3 linked regions of the Homo sapiens genome follow. The protein of the gene in region 1 purifies or fractionates together with the protein of each later gene. This does not show direct contact. Each region holds a gene or a part of one and is shown on either strand. Other genes may lie near its edges.

Region 1 (7,040 bases):
TGGCTAACACAGTAAAACCCCATCTCTACTAAAAGTACAAAAAATTAGCCGGGCATGGTGGCGGGGGCCTGTAGTCCCGGCTACTTGGGAGGCTGAGGCAGGAGAATGGCGTGAACCCGGGAGGCGGAGCTTGCAGTGAGCCGAGATCGCGCCACTGCACTCTAGCCTGGGTGACAGAGCGAGACTCCGTCTCGAAAAATAAAAATAAAAATAAAAAAATAAATTAAATAGAAACATTTGGCTAACATGGTGAAAGCCCATCTCTACTAAAAAATACAAAAAATTAGCCGGGCGTGGTGCCGGGCATCTGTAGTCCCAACTACTCGGGAGGCTGAGGCAGAAGAATGGCGTGAACCCGGGAGGCGGAGCTTGCAGTGAGCCAAGATCGAGCCACTGCATTCCAGCCTGGGCGACAAAGTGAGACTCCGTCTCAAAAAAAAGAAAAAAAAAAAAAAGAAGGAATAATTTAAAGAATAAGGGAGACTGGGCATGGTGGCTCATAAGCCTGTAATCCCAACACTTTGGGAGGCTGAGGTGGGAGAATTGCTTGAGCCCAGGAGTTTGAGAACAGCCTGGGCAACGTGAGGAGATCCTGTCTCTACAAAAAATTTAAAAATTGGCTTGGCATGGTGGTGTGCACCTGTAGTCCCAGCTACTCGAGAGACTGAGGCAGGAGGGTCACTTGGGCCCAGGTGGTCAAGGCTGCAGTGACCTACGATCATGCCACTGCACTCCAGCCTGGACCCAGTCTCAAAAAAAATAAATAAATAAAATGGAAAGAAAAGAATGGGGGAAAGAGCGAACCCACGCCCTCTGCTCACTGTTCTCATTACTAACACCACCTTCTGTGCCTCTGCTGGGATACAACAGGAAGGACACGGCACCCCTGATGAGGTTTCCTTAACTAAAAACTGACACAGAATCTACCAAAAACTCTGAATCTCCACAGTCATTTATAGCAACTATGGGCATAGAAAAACAAATTAAACACACCAGGAAGAAACAATGGACGAAATCCAGAATAGGAGCTATTCTACAGGAAAATGATCCAGTTTCTTCCACAAATCAAAGGCCTAACAAAAGGGGAGGGGAAACTCTGAAAATAATAAAAGAGATTTAGGACACATGACTACCAAACAGCATGTGGGCCTTGTTTGGATTCAGCTTTGAACAAATCAAACATGGAAAACCATCTGCAACCCCACTGGGGAGACCGCCTCAATTTTATTAGGTGTGATGATGGTTATATATTTAAAGCTCCCATCACTTAGAGATATAATGAAGTTGGCTGGGCACGGTGGCTCACGCCTGTAATCCCAGCACTTTGGGAGGCTAAGGTGGGTGGATCATCTGAGGTCAGGAGTTCGAGACCAGCCTGGCCAACATGGTGAAACCCCATCTCTACTAAAAATATATTTTAAAAAATTAGCCAGGCATGGTGGCCCGTGCCTGTAGTCCCAGCTATTTGAGAGGCTGAGGCAGGAGAATCGCTTGAACCCGGGAGGTGGAGGTTGCAGTGAGCCAAGATCACGCCACTGCACTCCAGCCTGAGCAACGGAGCAAGTCTCCGTCTCAAAAAAAAAAAGGTATAATGAAGTGTTTACAGATGAAATGGCATGTTGCCTGAGATTTGCTTAAAATAATCTAGCAAATTAGGAGGGAATGGATGGAAACGAGATTAGCAAAATGCTGGGAATGACTGAAATGTAAGTGAAAGGCATATGGGGATCATTACACTATGCATTCTGTTTGAAAACTTTGAGACCGGGCATGGTGGCTCTTGCCTGTAATCCCAGGATTTGGGAGCTGGAGGTGGGAGGGTCACTGAAGCCCAGGAATTCAAGACCAGCCTGGGAAACATAACAAAACCCTGTCTCTACAAAAAAAAAAATTTTTTTAATTAGCTGGGCATGGTGGTGCATGTCTGTAGTCCCAGCTATGTGGGAGGCTGAGGTGGGAGGATTGTTTGAGATCAGGGATTTGAGACTGCAGTGAATTATGATCACATCACTGCACTCCAGCCTGGGGGACAGAGTAAGACCCCATCTCAAAAAAAAAAAAAAAAGAATCAAAGAAAATTTTCAAAATAAAAAATGTTTGAAATAAGATGCAAATGCAATCTAAGGCATTTGAGAAACAGAAAGAAAACTCTCAAGTCCTGCACAGTCCCACCTGGTCCTCTCCACTCATTTGTGTTAACTCCCTGGACTCTGCCTTATAGCTGTCATTTCTGACAGCTTTAGAGCAACCCCTCCTCTCAGGGTCCCAGCCTGTGCCCTGTGCTATTATATGAAGCAAAAATATAATACCAAGGAGTAGACTTTCAAATCAAAGACATTTCACCATATATACAAATTCTGATTCATTCATGGGGGCTGTCTGAAGGTTGAGGAGGACTCTTGGCTCAGCAGGAAAATGCACTACAATTGATTAGCGATGTCTGCCATGGGCAAGAGAGTGGGCAGGTAGTGACTGGCTTGACATGCCTGCCATCTTCATGTTAGGCATTACCTAAGGATTGTCAGACGGATCTCAAAGCCTGGAGAATAATCCTCATAGCGGATGATCTTGGCAAAGATCATTGGGGTGATAAAATTGGCCAGCGTGATCACAATAGACGGTAGATACAATATGAAGAGGTTCTCTCCAAAAACCATCTTGTCGATTTCCTAGGAGGATAACAAAACTTATTAGTCAGGAGTATATGAGGAAGTTACACCACAAATAGATAGAACAAAAAAGAACTCAACTATGTGTGTTGGGCAAACAAAACGTATTTGTCATTCAACATGGCCTGTAAGCATAAGTCATCTCGTTCCTTTTTTTTTTTTTTTTTTTTTTTGAGATGGAGTCTCCTTCTGTCACCCAGGCTGGAGTGCAGGGACATAATCTCGGCTCACTGCAACCTCCGTCTCCCAGGTTCATGCGATTCTCCTGCCTCAGCCTCCCGAGTAGCTGGGACTACAGGCACCCCCCACCATGCCAGGCTAATTTTTGTATTTTTAGTAAAGACAGGGTGTCACCATGTTGGTCAGGCTGGTCTCAAACTCCTGACCTCAGGTGATCCACCCGCTTTGGCTTCCCAAAGTGCTAGGATTACAGGCATGAGCCACCTCGCCCGGCCGCCATCTCCTTCTTCAGATATTCAAAAAGAGGTATCTAGTACTGTGCAGGAAGAAAACCAGGATCTACTGGATTTATTAAAGGGATGTATAAGAAGACCCATGTATTCTGTATAAACGGGCAATTTAAAGTATCTTCAAGGGTGTAGAATTGATTTGATTTGAAATTGAAATAGCAATTCCCTGCTTTCACAGTAACAGACTACCTGGACAATATATAGCCATCCGCAATAAAAAGTAAATTTCCTAGCCTCCCTTGTAGCTAGGTACTACCATGTGACTAAATTCTGGCCAAGGGGATATAAGTGGAAGTTTTTAGTGTAACCCACAGGTTATGCCCTTTAAAGGAAGAAATGTGCCCTCCTTAGCCCCTTCATCTCCTTCCCCTTGGCTAGAATGTGGCCATGGTGGTGAGCTATCTTGTACCATACAGAAGACCATACCCAGCCAGGTGTGGTGGCTCATGCCTGTAATCCCAGCACTTTGGGATGCTGAGACAGGTGGATCACTTGAGGTCAGAAGTTCAAGACCAGCCTGGCCAAACTGGTGAAACCCTGTCTCTACCAAAAATACAAAAATTAGCCAGGTGTGTTGGCGGGTGCCTGTAATCCCAGCTACTCGGGAGGCTGAGACAGGAGAATGACTTGAACCCGGGAGGTGGAGGTTGCAGTGAGCCGGGATCGTGCCACTGCACTCCAGCCTGGGTGACAGAGTGAGACTCTGTCTCAAAAAAAAAAAAAAAAGAAAAAAGAAAGAAGAAAAGAAAACCATATCCTAGGGAGGGCAGAGCCACAAGATGAACGGAACCTGGACCCCTGATGATTGATTGCATAAAACAGAGCCACTAGACAAACTTGGAATTTTAAAACCACTGCTATTTTAGGTAAACCAAGGCCTTAGTTCAAAAATAACAGTCAGGGATAAAACCCTAGTCCAGCCTAGTTTTGAATATTGCAAATTCCAGGAGCAGTAAGGATCTCAAACACTACACTTTAGATGCTTTTAAAATTTTCTCTAAGGCCAGGTGCGGTGGCTAACACCTGCAATCCCAGCACTTTGGGAGGCCAAGGTGGGTGGATCTCTTGAGGTCAGGAGTTCGAGACCAGCCTGGCCAACATGGTGAAACCCCCGTCTCTGCTAAAAATACAAAAATTAGCTGGGTGTGGTGGCACATCCCTGTAATGCCAGCTACTAGGGAGGCTGAGGCATGAGAATCACTTGAACCTGGGAGGTGGAGGTTACAGTGAACTGAGATCACACCACCACACTTCAGCCTGAGCGACAGAGTGAGACTCTGTCTCAACAACAAAAACAAAAAAGTTCTCTTAAAAGTGAAAACTGGGCAGGGCACAATGGCTCACACCTGTAATCCCAGCACTTTGGGAGGTGGAGGCGGGCAGATCACCTGAGGTCAGAAGTTCAAAACCAGCCTGATCAACATGGAGAAACCCAGTCTCTACTAAAAACACAAAATTAGCCAGGCGTGGTGGCACATGCCTGTAATCCCAGCTACTCGGGAGGCTGAGGCAGGAGAATCATTTGAACCTGGGAGGCAGAGGCTGCAGTGAGCCAAGACAATGCCATTGCACTCCAGTCTGGGCAAGAAGAGCAAAACTCCATCTCAAAAAAAAATAAAAAAGTGGAAACTGATCACCTCTGATTTTCAGGTCTTGATCATATCAGCCAAACTTGTATCTCCATATGTAAAACAGAAATGACGATGGTATCTACCTCACAGATTTTCAGTGCACTAGGCATAATGTCCAGCCAGAGTACAAGTTAATTTACCTTTTTCATGTGCTCTTGCGAGAAGACAGTTGCTACGTATATTGCATAAAAGCATGCCCCTAAAACAGCCAGAACAATACAGTTCAAAAACAGTCTCAAAGAGTAAATGCGTATTGTTTCTTCTGAGGTCCTTTCTGCTATTTTCTGCCGCATTCTTTCTTCCTCCAGATCTGCCTGAAGATAAAAGAAAATTCACTTGTGAGCAGTGGGATGAAGGGATACTCAGGGATAGAAATTGATTCATCATTCTCTCCCCATCCATCTTTAAGAGTTCTAGCCAGGCATGGTGGCTCACTCCTGTAACCCTAGCACCGTGGCAGGCCAAGGTAGGAGGATCACTTGAGCCCAGGAGTTCAAGACCAACCCTGGCAACATAGTGAGACCCCATCTCTACAAGAAAACCCAGAAGAATTAGCTGGGTGTGGTGATGAGTGCCTGTAGTCGCTGCTACTCGGGAGGCTGATGTGGAAGATTGCTTGAGCCCGGGAGTTCGAGTCTGCAGTGATGTATGATCACGTCACTGTACTCCAGCCTGGGTGACAGAGTAAAATGCTATCTCAGAAAAAAAAAAAAAAGACATCTTTTAAATATTCATCTCCCCCAAGAAACCATCCTAGACTTAGCCCAACTACTTTTTTTCTTTCTTTTTTTTTTTTTTTTTGAGACAGAGTCTCGCTCTGTTGCCAGGCTGGAGTGCAGTGGTCCAATCTCGGCTCACTGCAACCTCTGACTCCCTGGTTCCAGTCATTCTCCTGCCTCAGCCTCCCGAGAAGCTAGGATTACAGGCATGCACCACCATGCCCAGCTAATTTTTGTAATTTTAGTAGAGACGGGGTTTCACCATATTGGCCAGGATGGTCTCAATCTCCTGACCCTGACCTGCCTCGGCCTCCCAAAGTGCTGGATTACAGGCATGAACCACTGCGCCTGGCCTAGCCCAACTATTTTTTATGTCTACTAAAGACCTAAGTAAAGACAGAACCTCCTATTTAAGACTGCAATTGGGCTTTGCAATAAATGTGAAAACAGAACTATAAACTATTCATATTACTTAAATATAGTATGTGTCATTTCTTCAAACACAATACAGGTGAGGTGTTGTTATTTTTTCTTTTACACAATGTAGTAGTCTCTGCTTTTATTAGGATAATTTAATCAGTTCGTATTTAGTGTAAGAAAGAATAGATTTGATTTGATTCCTTCCATTTTATTATGCTTTTGATTTATTTGTCCCCTCCTCCTTTTCTTTGATGGGTTTATTTTTATTAACATGCTATTCTTTACTCCTTTCTCTCCTTATTCATTTGGAAACTCTCATGTACTTTTTTTTTTTGAGATGGAGTCTAGCTCTGTCACCCAGGCTGGAATGCAGTGGCACAATCTAGGCTCACTGCAACCTCTGCCTCCTGGTTCAATTGATTCTCTTGCCTCAGACTCCCAAGTAGCTGGGACTACAGGCATGTGCCACCATGCCCAAGTAATTTTTTGTATTTTTAGTAGAGATGGTTGGAAACTCTCTTGTACTTTTTTTTTCTTTTTTGAGACGGAGTCTCGCTCTGTCACCCAGGCTGGAATGCAGTGGTGCAACCTCGGCTCACTGCAACCTCTGCCTCCCGGTTCAAGCGATTCTCTTGCCTCAGACTCCCAAGTAGCTGGGACTACAGGCATGTGCCACCATGCCTGGCTAATTTTTTGTATTTTTAGTAGAGATGGGGTTTCACCGTGTTAGCCAGGATGGTCTCGATCTCCTGACCTTGTGATATGCCTGCCTCAGCCTCCCAAAGTGCTGGGATTACAGGCATAAGCCACCACGCCCGGTCTGTACTTTTTCATATACTCTCCATCTCACACTATTGTCATAACATTCCCTCCTCACTCCCATTTCTCCTGGTATAAGTAGTGTTTATGACAGGTCCTCCTCAGGTGGAAAAATAACAGTGTAAAGTAGCAGGGTGTGGGGAAAGACATCACCTTCTTCCAGCCACTGCATCCCCACCCCACTTCCCAGTCCCAGTTCACCAGTGCTCCTGTTCAGGTCTAGGGTAATCAACCCCAGTAACGTGTTCGCTGTGAAACGTTCTTGAAAGCTACAGAGGGGTAACTTGCTAAGTACCAGGGACAACCTGTCCC
Region 2 (5,584 bases), on another chromosome or scaffold:
CCCGCTGGCCGCCCGCGCCAGGAGCCTGGACCCGGCCTCCCGGGGCTGCGGCGCCACCGAGCCCGGCAAATGCGCACGACCTACATTAATTTATGCAGAGACAGCTGTTTGAATTGGACCCCGCCGCCGACTTGCGGATTTCCACCGCGGAGGCCCCGCGCGCCGGTGCCGAGGGCCGAGGAGCGCCCGGGTCCGGGCAGGTGACCGCCCGCCTCTGTCCTGCGAGGGCCGGTGCGACCCAGTTGCTGGGGGCTTGGTTTCCTCACCTTGAAATCGGGCTTCACGCGTCTTGCCTTGTCCCCAACGTTCCACAACAGTCCCGCTGGGGGATTGAAGCGGTTTCACTCCGCAAATATCCTCCACTTTCAGGAGGGAAAACCCACCCTACCACAGTCCGCTCTTCCAAGTGGACGGCAGACCTGGGAGGGGACGCCTGTGTCACGAGCCCTTTTAGATGCTTAGGTGAAGGCAGAAGTGATGATTGTAAGTCCCATGAATACACAACTCCACTGTCTTTAAAAGTCATTCAAGAGTCTCATTATTTTTGTTTTTATTTAACCCTTTCTTCAATACAAAAAGCCAACAAACCAAGACTAAGGGGGTGACCATGCAATTCCATTTTGTGTCTGTGAACATAGGTGTGCTTCCCAAATACATTAACAAGCTCTTACTTCCCCCTAACCCCTATGAACTCTTGATAACACCAAGAGTAGCACCTTCAGAATATATTGAATAGGCATTAAATGCAAAAATATATATGTAGCCAGACAGTTTATGAGAATGACCCTGTCAAGCTTCATTATTACGTGGCAAAATCCCTCTGGCCCACACAGATCTGTAATTCACTAGGCTCGTGTTTGCTACAAATAGTGCTAATAAAGTTAAATTGCACGTGCAATACGGAACACTGTCAATGGACTGCACCTTGTGAAGGAAAAACATGCTTAAGGGGGTGTAATGAAAATGATGTAGACATTTTAAGCATTTTCTACACAGCGAGAAAACTTCGTAAGAACATGTTACGTGTGCAACAGGTAAACAGAAATCCTTTCATAAAGCACCAGCAGTGTTTAAAAAATGAGCTTCCATTAATTTTTACTTTTTATGGGTTTTGCTTAAAGATCTCAACATGGAAAAATCCTGTCATGGCTCTGAACTGCACAATGCATTGAACCGCCGTCCTTCAATTTTCTTCACACTATCAACACTGCAGCATTTTGCTGCTTTATCAAAATGGTTTATTTTAGGAAACTTTTTCCACCTTTCTGAATGGAAAGAGGTTTTCACAAATGTTTTAAACTCATCGTTCTAAAATCAAGTGCACCTACACCAACTGCTCTCAAAATGTGAACTGACTTTTTTTTTTTTTTTTTTGCCAACCCTGTGTCACTTAGTGAGGACCTGACACAATCCCTACAGGGTGTCTGTCAGTGGGCCTCATGGTAAGAGTCACAATTTGCAAATTTAGGACCGTGGGTCATGCAGCGAAGGGGCTGGATGGTAGGAAGGGATGTGCCCGCCTCTCCACGCACTCAGCTATACCTCATTCACAGCTCCTTGTGAGTGTGTGCACAGGAAATAAGCCGAGGGTATTATTTTTTTATGTTCATGAGTCTTGTAATTAAACCGTGATTCTTGAAAGGTGTAGGTTTGATTACTAGGAGATACCACCGACATTTTTCAATAAAGTACTGCAAAATGCTTTTGTGTCTACCTTGTTATTAACTTTTGGGGCTGTATTTAGTAAAAATAAATCAAGGCTATCGGAGCAGTTCAATAACAAAGGTTACTGTTGAGAAAAAAGACCCTATCATAGATTTACAAGTGACAACGTGGACAGGCGTAACAGAGTGTGTATGTACTTGAAAATGTGTACTAGTGAAAACGTCCTTGTCTAAACAAACTTCGTTTTCATAACCTAGAACATGAAGGAAGATTCTTACACGAGCTGGCTTCAGGACGGCCAGGGCTGAGTGTGAAGTCAGCAGAGCTGTTACTGTGGCAACCTAATATTGTGACCTCCATCTTGAAGAGTCTGCACATTTAAGCTGGGGATAGCGTTTCTTGACTTCTGTGAGGCTCCGGCAGGGGAAGAGGAAGCATTTTAATACATATGCCTCTCTTTTACAAAAAAGAAAAAAAAATCATCGTAGGCCCTAACATGTACCATGTTGACAAAAATGCCAGATCAAATGGATTTGAGAAATAAGCCCAATTCAAGGCTGGCTCAGCCCTCCACGGGGCCTCCCAGGGAAAGGAATTCCTTTATGTTCTTGGAAGCCCTTTTCTAGAAAAGCCATTCCATTCATACCTTTGTAGAGCAGTGGGCTGGGTGTGGAGGGCAGCGCGGAGGGTATCTGCAAGAGCCTGTATTTTCCGCCTCCCTTGCCCCCACTCCTTTTATCCTTTTAAAAGTCCTATCAGCCCTGCCTTCGTCCCTTCCGCCCTAAGCCCTAAGAGTGGGGGAGGTTTAATACGGCCAATGGATCTTGTATAAAGTCTACGTAAGTTTTAATTTACCAGAGCTATAAGATGGTTAAGGTAGACTAGTGGGGACTGCTACAGATAAAATGAGATACAAAGAACATTTGCAAATAAATGCCATAAAATTACAGTAGCTTGGAATTTTAGTGAATCATGGCCCTTGTGTTATCTAGAATGCTAATTATTCAAGCTGTTCCTAAACTTAAGTATGACATATAAGATTAAAATCTTGGGGGGAAAAACTGTTCAGATGAAAAGTCAAGTCAAGAAGTTTCCACAAAAGAAAAGAAAAATCCTAAAAACAATCTAGCTGTTGTTACATTAAATTTATTTCTCACCTCCATTAAAAGGGTTTTTGCTTTGGAGTTTTGTTAACTTTCGTTCTTTGGAGTAATAATATTTCTCTTGTGTATGGCGCTGAATACATTTGTCAATAATACGTCAAAAAAAAAAACACTTGGCTTCTTAATACTTGGAAATACGTACATATTCCTTACTATGTAAAACACTTTATTTATTTTGTAAAAATGTTTAAATATGAATAAAAATACTGTAACCCAAAGTAGTTGCCTACTTTTAAAAATGAAACTTGTAAAAATAAGAGGGAGCCCAAACCACATAGAAAGTCTTAGTTTATTTTGGTAGACTTGCTTTTTATAGGCATTGGTTTAAAGTGATTCTTTTCAGAGACATCCTTTGAGAAGTTAAAATTGCAGAGGCTTACGCTTTCTTTTATTTCAAATATGCATAGTGATTAACCAGGAATAAGGATTCTCCCATGTTCTGCCTGTTAAGAGCAAACAGATCTGGAGAACGGAAGCCCACCCTGCCTCCCTTTTCCATCTGAAGCAGTGCGGGGAGGCTGGCTCCTCTCTTTGTTCCCAGACTCCAGGGCAAGGGGCGACCATGCTGTATATGCTGTGCCTTGGGGGACCCCCAGAGGCTGCGCTCTGTGGCCTGTGCTCCCCCGACCTGTGCACCCGCACCCCAGTCGGCCACTTGCTCTCACATCAGGCAACGTCAGCCTGCTGCAGTGAAACTCAACCACGATTTTCCTTTGCACACAAATCCTTCCTACTTCCACCACTCCCTAGCAGAGTTCCCAGTGCCAGAGAGCACTGCTGGGGTGGGGGTGGGGACAGGAAGCCCAGTTATTGCTGTGTTCTATTTTAGGGGGCACTTCCTCAAGAGTCCCCTTGAAACCCGTTACCAGCCTGGAAGGGAGGATATCTTGCCTTTTACAAAATACGGTCGATACTCAATGCACAGCCTCTAAAACAAGGGCTACTCCAGTGTTCTAAAAGCACACGCCAATCCTGAGTTTAGTGACCACATTTTAAAGATCATCAGGAAAATGCCAAGTTCCCATTAAGACTTTAAAGCTCCTTGAGATCCCAGGTTGCGGGGTGCATAAATGGCCCAAATCGGAGAGTGTGCTATAGCAGGTAGACAGGTTTCGCTAACACGAACAGCTATCAGTAAAATGCCTTTATTCAGCTAATTCTATAGAAGCGGAGTTTTGAGAGTCTTTGGTTCATGTGAGGCAAAATCAGGTTTATGGAAAACGCAGCATCTGCTTCAAGGCTGCTTCATCTCTCTCAGGACAACTGAGTCTCCTGCGTGAGGGAGGAGCGCCTGCTGGAAAGCACAGAGCACAGCAGTATGCCCGGAACATCTCCATAGCCTTTGACAAGGCCACACTTCATTAGTTTTAATTTGCAGAAAGGAAATTAAATGATAACATTTTTTCCCAAAGCAGAGTGTCCAGAATAGGACTTCAGCTTAAAACAAAACATAGCATGTTTTTCATTAAATAACCCCCAAAGAAATTCAAAAAGTGATGATGGCAGCTCTGAGAGAGGGCTTGCCTTATATTACAAAGTCTGAGAAATGAAACCTACATCGTTAGCCTCGAGATCTTTGTCCCTGATGATATTCTGCAGATGCCCTCTCAAGGGTAAGTCCATTTTGTAATTTGGGGATGGTGTGGACTTGTATTTTACTTAAGTTTCTAACTAATTTTGAAAGAAGGCTTGGGCATTTGGAGAAGAGTGGTTTTTTTTGTGTTTTTTGTTTGTTTGTTTTTTGAGAAAAATAATTCTAATTGAAGCCTCATTTCCAAAAATTACTTTTTAAGTTCTTTTAATGTTTCATTTCCAAAAAATATATATTGGGTATTTTTTCATAGGGCTGTCCTGTGCCTGGCTAAAGGTAGACAGACTATACTAAAAACCACAAGTTTCTGGAATTAGCCTGACTGGGTAAGACCTGGATAAAGATGGTGCTAGTTTACAATGAAGGGATTTTGTTCAAAGCTGAAAGCTCCATCAAACTTTCTTTCCACTAATTTCAGCTGGGACTGGAAGAGAGAAAACTGGACAAAAATTGGCCTTTTAAAAAGCTGAAAAGTAATGAGTATGATTCATAAGTTCAACAGAGATAGGAGGGACATGGAAAAGGCATGGCGTACATCTGGGAATAGCGAATGCATATCAAAAGGCTTCATTTCTTTTGTTCTTTCATGAGGCTTGTAGCACATCAAATTTTGAATGTCTTCTTTTAAAGCTATGTGCGCACACACGCACGCACACACATATGCGGGCACACACACACATCCTCCCTCTGAACTGATGGTGTTTAGTATCGATAACATTTTCTTTCTTGGTAATACGAGGTAAATGAGGGGGGCAAAAACTTATGACTTCTGAGTAAAATGCCATGTCTTCTATATTCCGTGAGCTGCACAGTCTTGCAGGAATGCTCCACATTTCAGAGTAAATCTGAAACTGGCTTAAAAGCTCCAAATCCTCCCTTGTATGTGGTATGAGTGTGCCTTCATCTCCAGCTGTCAGAGCCAAATCGCCCACCTCCTCATCCAAGTGATGCCTAATCAGACATTTAAGGATTCTGAACTTGATCCTGTCTCTTCACAATATGTAGTAAATTTAAACTTACTTAAGAAAGTCAGTCCCTAACTAAGGACATTTAAACTTCCTTAGGAAAGGAGAGCTCACTGAATGATGTCAAAGTAATGAACTGATTTCCTCTACAAGGTCACTGCAACCACACCAGCTAGCTCTATCTCTACAGGCATTTAGAC
Region 3 (7,324 bases), on another chromosome or scaffold:
GTTGCAGTGAGCTGAGATCATGCCACTGCACTCCAGCCTGGGCGACAGAGCGATACTCCATCTCAAAAAAAAAAAAAAAAGATTCCTCTTTTCAGTAGTTAAGGAGGGTCCAAGAGTAGATTTTTGGGAGGCAAATTTGTATGATGGAAAGAACATAGAACTGAAGACAATACAAAAATTTAGGTCCAGATTCTGACTTCGTAGCAAGTAATTTAATCTCTCTCAACTTCAGATTTTTTATCTGCAAAATGGGGATACATGATATCTTTTTCAAAAGATTTTCTTTCTTTTTTTTTTTTTTTTTTTGAGACAGAGTCTCACTCTGTTGCCCAAGCTGGAGTGCAGTGGCACAATCTCGGCTTACTGCAAGCTCCGCCTCCTGGGTTCACGCCATTCTCCTGCTTCAGCCTCCCGAGTAGCTGGGACCACAGGTGCCCGCCACCACGCCCAGCTAATTTTTTGTATTTTTAGTAGAGACAGGGTTTCACCGTGCTAGCCAGGATGGTCTCGATCTCCTGACCTTGTGATCTGCCCGCCTTGGCCTCCCAAAGTGCTGGGATTACAGGCGTGAGCCACCGTGCCCGGCCTACTTCAAAGGATTTTCACAGGGGATTAAATAAGCTAACACATGAGGAAGAGCAGGACACAACAATAAGTGCTAGTTTTTCTTTCCATTTCTTTTTTTTCCTGTTTCTTTATTAATTGAGACATAGTCTCGCTCTGTTGCCACCATGCCTGGCTGATTTTTGTATTTTTAGTAAAGACAGGGTTTCACCATGTTGGCCAGGGTGGTCTTGAACTCCTGGCTTCTGGTGATCTGCCCACCTCAGCCTCCCAAAGTGTTGGGATTATAGGCATGAGCCATCGTGCCTGGCCTTTTCCTTCCATTTCTATATGCACTGTTTCACTAAGAGTCAATTGAGAGGCGGAAAACCACTGAGACAAATACCATTAAACTAATATTCAAGTTGAATTGGAGCCAAGACACCTTTTCTGGCTATCCTCAGTTTGACCTTGTCTGCTTTAGACCTGCTAAAGCTAAAATAACTGGCGTCTGGCTATGACTATGCCTGCGAATTTTAGAGGAACCTATGTCTACTGTCCCAATGAGAGGCTGCAGCTCAGTTACCCACAGCTAAAGCGCAAGGCTGCTTAGCAGGTCTGTGTATGCTTTGTTGGTCTACAATAAAAGAGACTTAAGTAATGCTCAGTTGTTAATTGATATCTCCTAAAATAGCTAATTCAAGTTGCAAAATGTTATTTGATTTCTCTCTCAGTGTTCTCCTGGCTTCTTTTATTCAGGAAGCAAGGAGGCTACATTGGGGAATGGTGACTTTGGTTTGTGCGGGCACTCTTTTTAAATCGTGGGATGAGAACATCACCCAGTGAGAAAGCCCCTGGGCTGGTAATCAGCACAGAGAGCTTAGTCAGGACTATAACCCATCAGTCAGAAAAATATTTGCCTGGGAAGAGAGATACTACCGTGAGAGCTTCATTCACTTTTATCGTGGTCGCTGGGGTCTCTGAGGTAAGTCTGTTATGGCATGATATGGTCTGGATATGTGTCCCCTCCAAATCTCATGTTGAAATGTATTCCCGCCGGGCGCAGTGGCTCATGCCTGTAATTCCAGCACTTTGGGAGGCCGAGGCGGGCGGATCACGAGGTCAGGAGATCGAGACCATCCTGGCTAACACGGTGAAACCCCATCTCTCCTAAAAATACAAAAAATTAGCCGGGCGTGGTGGCATGCGCCTGTAATCCTAGCTACTTGGGAGGCTGAGGCAGGAGAATGGTATGAACCCGGGAGGCGGAGGTTGCAGTGAGCTGAGACTGTGCCACTGCACTCCAGCCTGGGCGACAGAGTGAGATTCTGTCTCAAAAAAGAAAAAAAAAAAAAAAAAAAGAAAAGAAAAAGAAATGTATTCCCAATGTCAGAGGTGGGACCTGGCAGGAGGTGATTGGAACCTGAGAGTGGACCCCTCATGAATGGCTTAGTGCCATCCTCTTGGTGATGAGTGAATTCTCACTCAGTTCACATCAGATCTGGTTTTGAAAAGACTCTGGGACCTCCCTCTTCTCTCTCTTGCTCCCACTCTTGCCATGTGACATGCCTGTTCCCCCTAGGCCTTCTGCAATGATTAGAAGCTTCCTGAGGCCTCACCAGAAGCTGAGCAGATGCTGGCACCATGCTTCCTATGCAGTCTGCAGAACCATGAATAAATTAAACCTCTTTCTTTATAAATCAACCAGCCTCAGATTTTTTTTTTTTTTTAAAGACAGGGTCTCACTTTGTTATCCAGCTGAAGCACAGTGGTACAATCATAGCTCACTGCAACTTCGAGCTCCTAGGCTCAAGCAATCCTCCCACCAAAGCCTCTCGAGTATTTGGGACAACGGGTGGATGCCACCATGCCCAGCTAACTTTTTAAAAATTTTTTTTGTAGAGAGGGAGGTCTTACTATGTTGCCCAGGCTGGTCTCAAACTCCTGGACTCGAGTGACCCTCCCACCTTGGCCTCCGAGGGATGGGATTACAGGCATGAGCCACCATGCCTAGCGAGGTATTTCTGTATAGCAACATAAGAACAAATGACTACATTTGCACTTCAAGCATTCTGGCTCATGCTCAAAAATGAGATCCGAAGATTTTTATTTTTTGAGTTCCACAAGGCTTTGGTTATCTGAGCATTTGTAAAGTGGGAGTGGGGAGAGAGGCAGTGTTTATCTTTGTTTAGTCTGCTCCATACACGTTTCTCCAAACTGAAAGCCTACAATTCTTTCTATTTTTGTAGAGACAGGGTCTCACTATGTTGCCCAGGCTGGAACTCCTAGGCTCAAGCGATCCTCCTGCGTCAGCCTCCCAAAGTGCTGAAATTACAAGCGTCAGCCACCATGCCGGGACTGGAAGCCTACAATTCTAAATTGTACTGATGAATATAGAGAGGAAAAAAAATGAATAAACAAAATTCTTAGAACCAAATGATTATAATGAGACTGGGAAAAAATTATTTGAAATCTGACAGTTATATATTGAAACAAAATAAAAGCATTTATAAAGTCCTGGATGCAATTTAAAATAAAAAGAATATTGGCTGGGAGTGGTGGCTCATGCCTGTAATCCCAGCACTTTGGGAGGCCGAGGCGGGCAGATCACGAGGTCAGGAGTTCGAGACCAGCCTGGGCAACATGGTGAAACGCCGTCTCTAAAAATACAAAAATTAGCTGGACGCAGTGGTGTGCACCTGTAGTCCCAACTACTTGGGAGGCTGAGGCAGGAGAATCGCTTGAACCCGGGAAGCAGAGGTTGCAGTGAGCCGAGATCATGCCACTGCACTCCAGCCTGGGTGACAAGAGTGACACTGTGTCTCAAAAAAAAAAAAATTATATTGGTCAGGTGTGGTGGCTCACGTCTGTAATCCCAGCACTTTGGGAGGCCAAGGCAGGAGGATCACTTAAGGCCAGGAGTTCGAGACCAATCTGGGCAACAAAGAGAGACCCCTCCCCAACCCCATTTCTACAAAATTAAAAATTAGCTGAGCACGGTGGCTTGTGCCTGTAGTCCTGGCTACATTCAATAATTACTAAGAATATTCTAGGCTAGGGTTTTTCAGAGTGTGGTGCATGGCAATCTGTGTCAGAATTCCTTCAGGTGCTTCCTACTGAATTAGAAGCTCCAGGGCCCGGAAATCCGCATTTTAAACTAGCTCCGTAGGCGATTTGGATTCACACTAAAGACTGAGGACCACACTGTTCTAGGCACTGTTAGGTGCTGGGACCTAACACGAAACAAGGTAGACGTGGTTCCTGATTTCCCAGTATGCTCATATAGGGGTTGGTCGCATTAGTGATATGGGTGCTAGAATGGAAGAAGTAAGATCACATAGCAGGTGCGCCTAGTTCAGACTGAGGAGGGATCTGCAGCTCTAGAGACGTCTGTACTTCAGAGAAATACAGGAGCTGTCAGCTCGTGGAGGCGAAGGGCAGCCGTGGCCGTGAACAAAATGGCCAGGAGGAGGGCATCGTGTGTGAAGCGGGCTAAGGACCGAATTGTGAAAGACCCCAAACCACCCAGCCTTCCATCCCCCAAGATATCCGTCTTTGCCTTCGCTGGCCTTCCTCTGCGGAGCTACGCCCGCGCCCAGGGTGGCGGAGCCGCGCATCAACACCCTCTCGCCTCGGGACAGTCTTCCGACTCAGCCTTCTAGAGCAAGGCGAGGCGGGGCGGGGCTCAACCGAGGCCCTCCCCGGCTGCCCGGAGACTGCGCCGGACGCGCCAGCCCTGCGGGATGACGTCAGCGCGCCGCGCGCGCCGAGGGAGGAGCGGGCGCCGGGGGCCGGCTGGCGCGGGGGCTCCGGTAACCCGGGCTGGGCGGGGGAGAGGAAGGGGCGGGGCAGGGAGCCCGCCAGAGTGCGGGGTCGCGGTGCGGACTTCGAGCACGAGCCCTAAAGACGCTCAGCACTCGTCGCTTCTCCTAGCAGACCCTGCCCGGCTTGGCGATGGAGTTTCCGGACCTCGGCGCTCACTGTTCGGAGCCGAGCTGTCAGCGCTTGGGTGAGGGGCGGAGCGCGCGGGGGGCGGGGCCCAGCGGACAGGGACTTTGAACCGCAGGTTGGGAGGGAAGGGTGGGCTCCCAGGCTGGCAATGCCGGGGGGCGGGGCTTGAAGCTGGGGGGGGGTGGTCAGCGGCAGAGGGGGCGTGGCCAAGGAGGTAATGGGCTTGGGAAGGGGCGGTGTGTCGAAAATAGGGTGGCGTTTTCCTTCCCGAGTGGAAGACTTGAGTGAGAGAGAAGGACATCGAGGTCCCGCTGGACCTGCAATCCGACCAACTCTTTGCAGATTTTCTGCCGCTTAAGTGTGATGCCTGCTCAGGCATCTTCTGCGCAGACCATGTGGCCTACGCCCAGCATCACTGTGGATCTGCTTACCAAAAGGTGAGGGGGCGATCCTCAGGGTGAAAGCAGGCAGATGGAGAATGCGTGCAGAATCCCCCAAATCTGTGTCTCACGTTTCTTCTCCCTTTTGTCCTTCTGAGGCTGTCAGTGCTGGGAAACACTGTTTTTTTGCGTGTTTGTGGTGGGTCATATCCAAGTTCTTTCAGGACCAGAGATTTGTTGGACTGGAGTGGGCCACAGACTGACCCTTGCTCCTTGACTACAGGATATCCAGGTACCTGTGTGCCCTCTCTGTAATGTGCCTGTGCCTGTGGCCAGAGGGGAGCCCCCTGACCGTGCTGTGGGAGAGCACATTGACAGAGACTGTCGCTCTGATCCAGCACAGCAAAAACGTAAGGTAAACATTGTAGGGGTCAGCCACAACCCAGCTGGGACTACGGATGCCTGGAAACCCAAACAGCTAATCAGAGTCTCAGCAGAGACAACCTTCTCACTTCACCTCAGATCTTCACCAATAAGTGTGAACGCGCTGGCTGCCGGCAGCGAGAAATGATGAAACTGACCTGTGAACGCTGTAGCCGAAACTTCTGCATCAAGCACCGGCATCCACTGGACCATGATTGCTCTGGGGAGGGGCACCCAACCAGCCGGGCAGGGTAATGGCAGCCAAGTCCTCCACTTGCTTTTGGGAAGCATTCTTTTGGAACTGACTCAAGCTCTGTTGTTATAAATTGGGGAGCTTCAACCCTACCCTGTCGGCTAGGGGAGTCTTTTAGCTTCCTTTTCAAGTGCATGTTTTTCCAGAACTCCCCTCCTGACTTCCTGGGTAAGGCTAGTTCTTGGAGACATGCCAAAAATCTCTCTTCCCTACAGACTTGCTGCCATCTCCAGAGCACAAGCTGTGGCTTCTACAAGCACTGTCCCCAGCCCAAGTCAAACCATGCCTTCCTGTACCTCTCCCAGCAGGTAGGCCTGCCCGTTTCCCTGCTCCCCCTTTTTCCCCTTCACACCTCTGACCTCCACCTCTTCAATGTCTGTCGTAGAGCCACAACCCGATCTCCGTCCTGGACAGCCCCTCCAGTGATTGCTTTGCAGAATGGCCTGGTGAGTTGGGCAGAGGTTGGATGGACAGAAACAAACACACAGAGAGTGAAGTCCAAGGACGCTGGTCTTCTTTCTCCCTTTGTAGAGTGAGGATGAAGCTCTGCAGCGGGCCCTGGAAATGTCCCTGGCAGAAACCAAACCCCAGGTTCCAAGGTACCTTACCCTCTTGTGAAAGAGAGCGCAAGCTGTGGGCAAGGGCTTGGTCTGGAGGCAGGTAGGTGGGACCACTCTGACACAATGCAAGATAATCGCTGGCAACTTGGTCTCAAAATTAAGATGAACTATATGATCTTTGACAAGTTATTTAACCCATGGAGCCTTCATTTCCTCTATAAAACGGGGACAATACTAATACCCACCTTGTAGTGTTGCTATGAAGATTGAGATAATCCTCAGCAGTGCTCAGCACCATGAGGCCCAACACACACAGATCAGATGTTCAAATTTCAGATCTTACCATCATCCAACTTAAACTGTTTCTCCCTCCCAGTTGTCAGGAGGAAGAAGACCTAGCTTTAGCACAAGCACTGTCAGCCAGTGAGGCAGAATACCAGCGGCAGCAGGTATGAGGCTGGGCTGAAGATATATGCTGCAGTGGAAGGGAGGAAGAAGTCAGGGATGGGGGTTCTTCCTAGTGGTGCAGAGTTTTGGAATGGTGGTTATCGTCTGGTTTTCAGTATGACTCCAGCCCATGCTGAGCTCTGAAATGAGGGCTGTCCCTCATTTCCTTGACGTTGCACTGTGTCTTCCCCTCCTTCCCCTCTCTTTGCTCTAGGCCCAGAGCCGCAGCTCGAAGCCGTCCAACTGCAGCCTGTGCTAGGGCCCTGGGCTTGGGGAGGGAGGTTCACCTGAGGAGGACTGTGGCCCTCACACCTCTAGGGTACACAGGGAGAGGAGGCCCGGAGCACCCTGGAGGGCAGAGACAAGCGGGAGTGATGTGGAGGTCGCCCTGGGAGCCTCTGGAAGGCCTTGCTAGTGCTCCAGCTGCATGGAAGAGAGCGGCTAGCAACTGTTCCCTGGTTGGGCCCTCAGTGGATGCTGGCCAGGCCCTACTCTTAGCCCCTTCATCATGTCATCTCCCTTATGCTGGAGCTGCCCCGATGTGGAGTGGGCAGGAAGGGGCCTGGAAAAAATAAAGGATCTTGGCAGTTGATAAAACGTACAAGTGGTGTGTTTCTCTCTCCTCTCTAACCTCAAACAGGAAAGCCGTGTCAAGAATGCTCATCTGACTTATGGGTAGAGGCCCGCTGCAGTACCCCATCCCACAAAGCCACAGTGATCCTCGCACAGTCCACATTTTTATTTCCCCAAAAGATGTTTTTCGGAAA

Evidence for each region. Proteins that work in one complex are often made in the same cells at the same time.
Region 2: the proteins of TMC7 (region 1) and HLCS purify together in Homo sapiens (affinity purification with mass spectrometry; 2 studies listed by BioGRID and IntAct, with this or other methods). This does not show direct contact.
Region 3: the proteins of TMC7 (region 1) and ZFAND2B purify together in Homo sapiens (affinity purification with mass spectrometry; 2 studies listed by BioGRID and IntAct, with this or other methods). This does not show direct contact.

What each region holds. Positions count from the first base shown.
Region 1 is NC_000016.10:19,035,918-19,042,957, reverse strand, and holds part of TMC7 (transmembrane channel-like protein 7), read right to left. Parts: intron 5,085-7,040; coding exon 4,911-5,084; intron 2,670-4,910; coding exon 2,512-2,669; intron 1-2,511. UniProt on the Homo sapiens protein: Acts as an inhibitory modulator of PIEZO2 mechanosensitive channel in dorsal root ganglion (DRG) neurons through physical interactions or interference with the interaction between PIEZO2 and the cytoskeleton.
Region 2 is NC_000021.9:36,748,093-36,753,676, forward strand, and holds the end of HLCS (biotin--protein ligase), read right to left. Parts: 3' UTR 534-5,584; downstream 1-533. UniProt on the Homo sapiens protein: Biotin--protein ligase catalyzing the biotinylation of the 4 biotin-dependent carboxylases acetyl-CoA-carboxylase, pyruvate carboxylase, propionyl-CoA carboxylase, and methylcrotonyl-CoA carboxylase.
Region 3 is NC_000002.12:219,202,491-219,209,814, forward strand, and holds ZFAND2B (AN1-type zinc finger protein 2B), read left to right. Parts: upstream 1-4,291; 5' UTR 4,292-4,497; coding exon 4,498-4,552; intron 4,553-4,836; coding exon 4,837-4,931; intron 4,932-5,157; coding exon 5,158-5,289; intron 5,290-5,396; coding exon 5,397-5,548; intron 5,549-5,765; coding exon 5,766-5,858; intron 5,859-5,935; coding exon 5,936-5,996; intron 5,997-6,081; coding exon 6,082-6,149; intron 6,150-6,486; coding exon 6,487-6,559; intron 6,560-6,771; coding exon 6,772-6,816; coding exon of another isoform or gene 6,817-7,132; 3' UTR 7,133-7,158; downstream 7,159-7,324. UniProt on the Homo sapiens protein: Plays a role in protein homeostasis by regulating both the translocation and the ubiquitin-mediated proteasomal degradation of nascent proteins at the endoplasmic reticulum.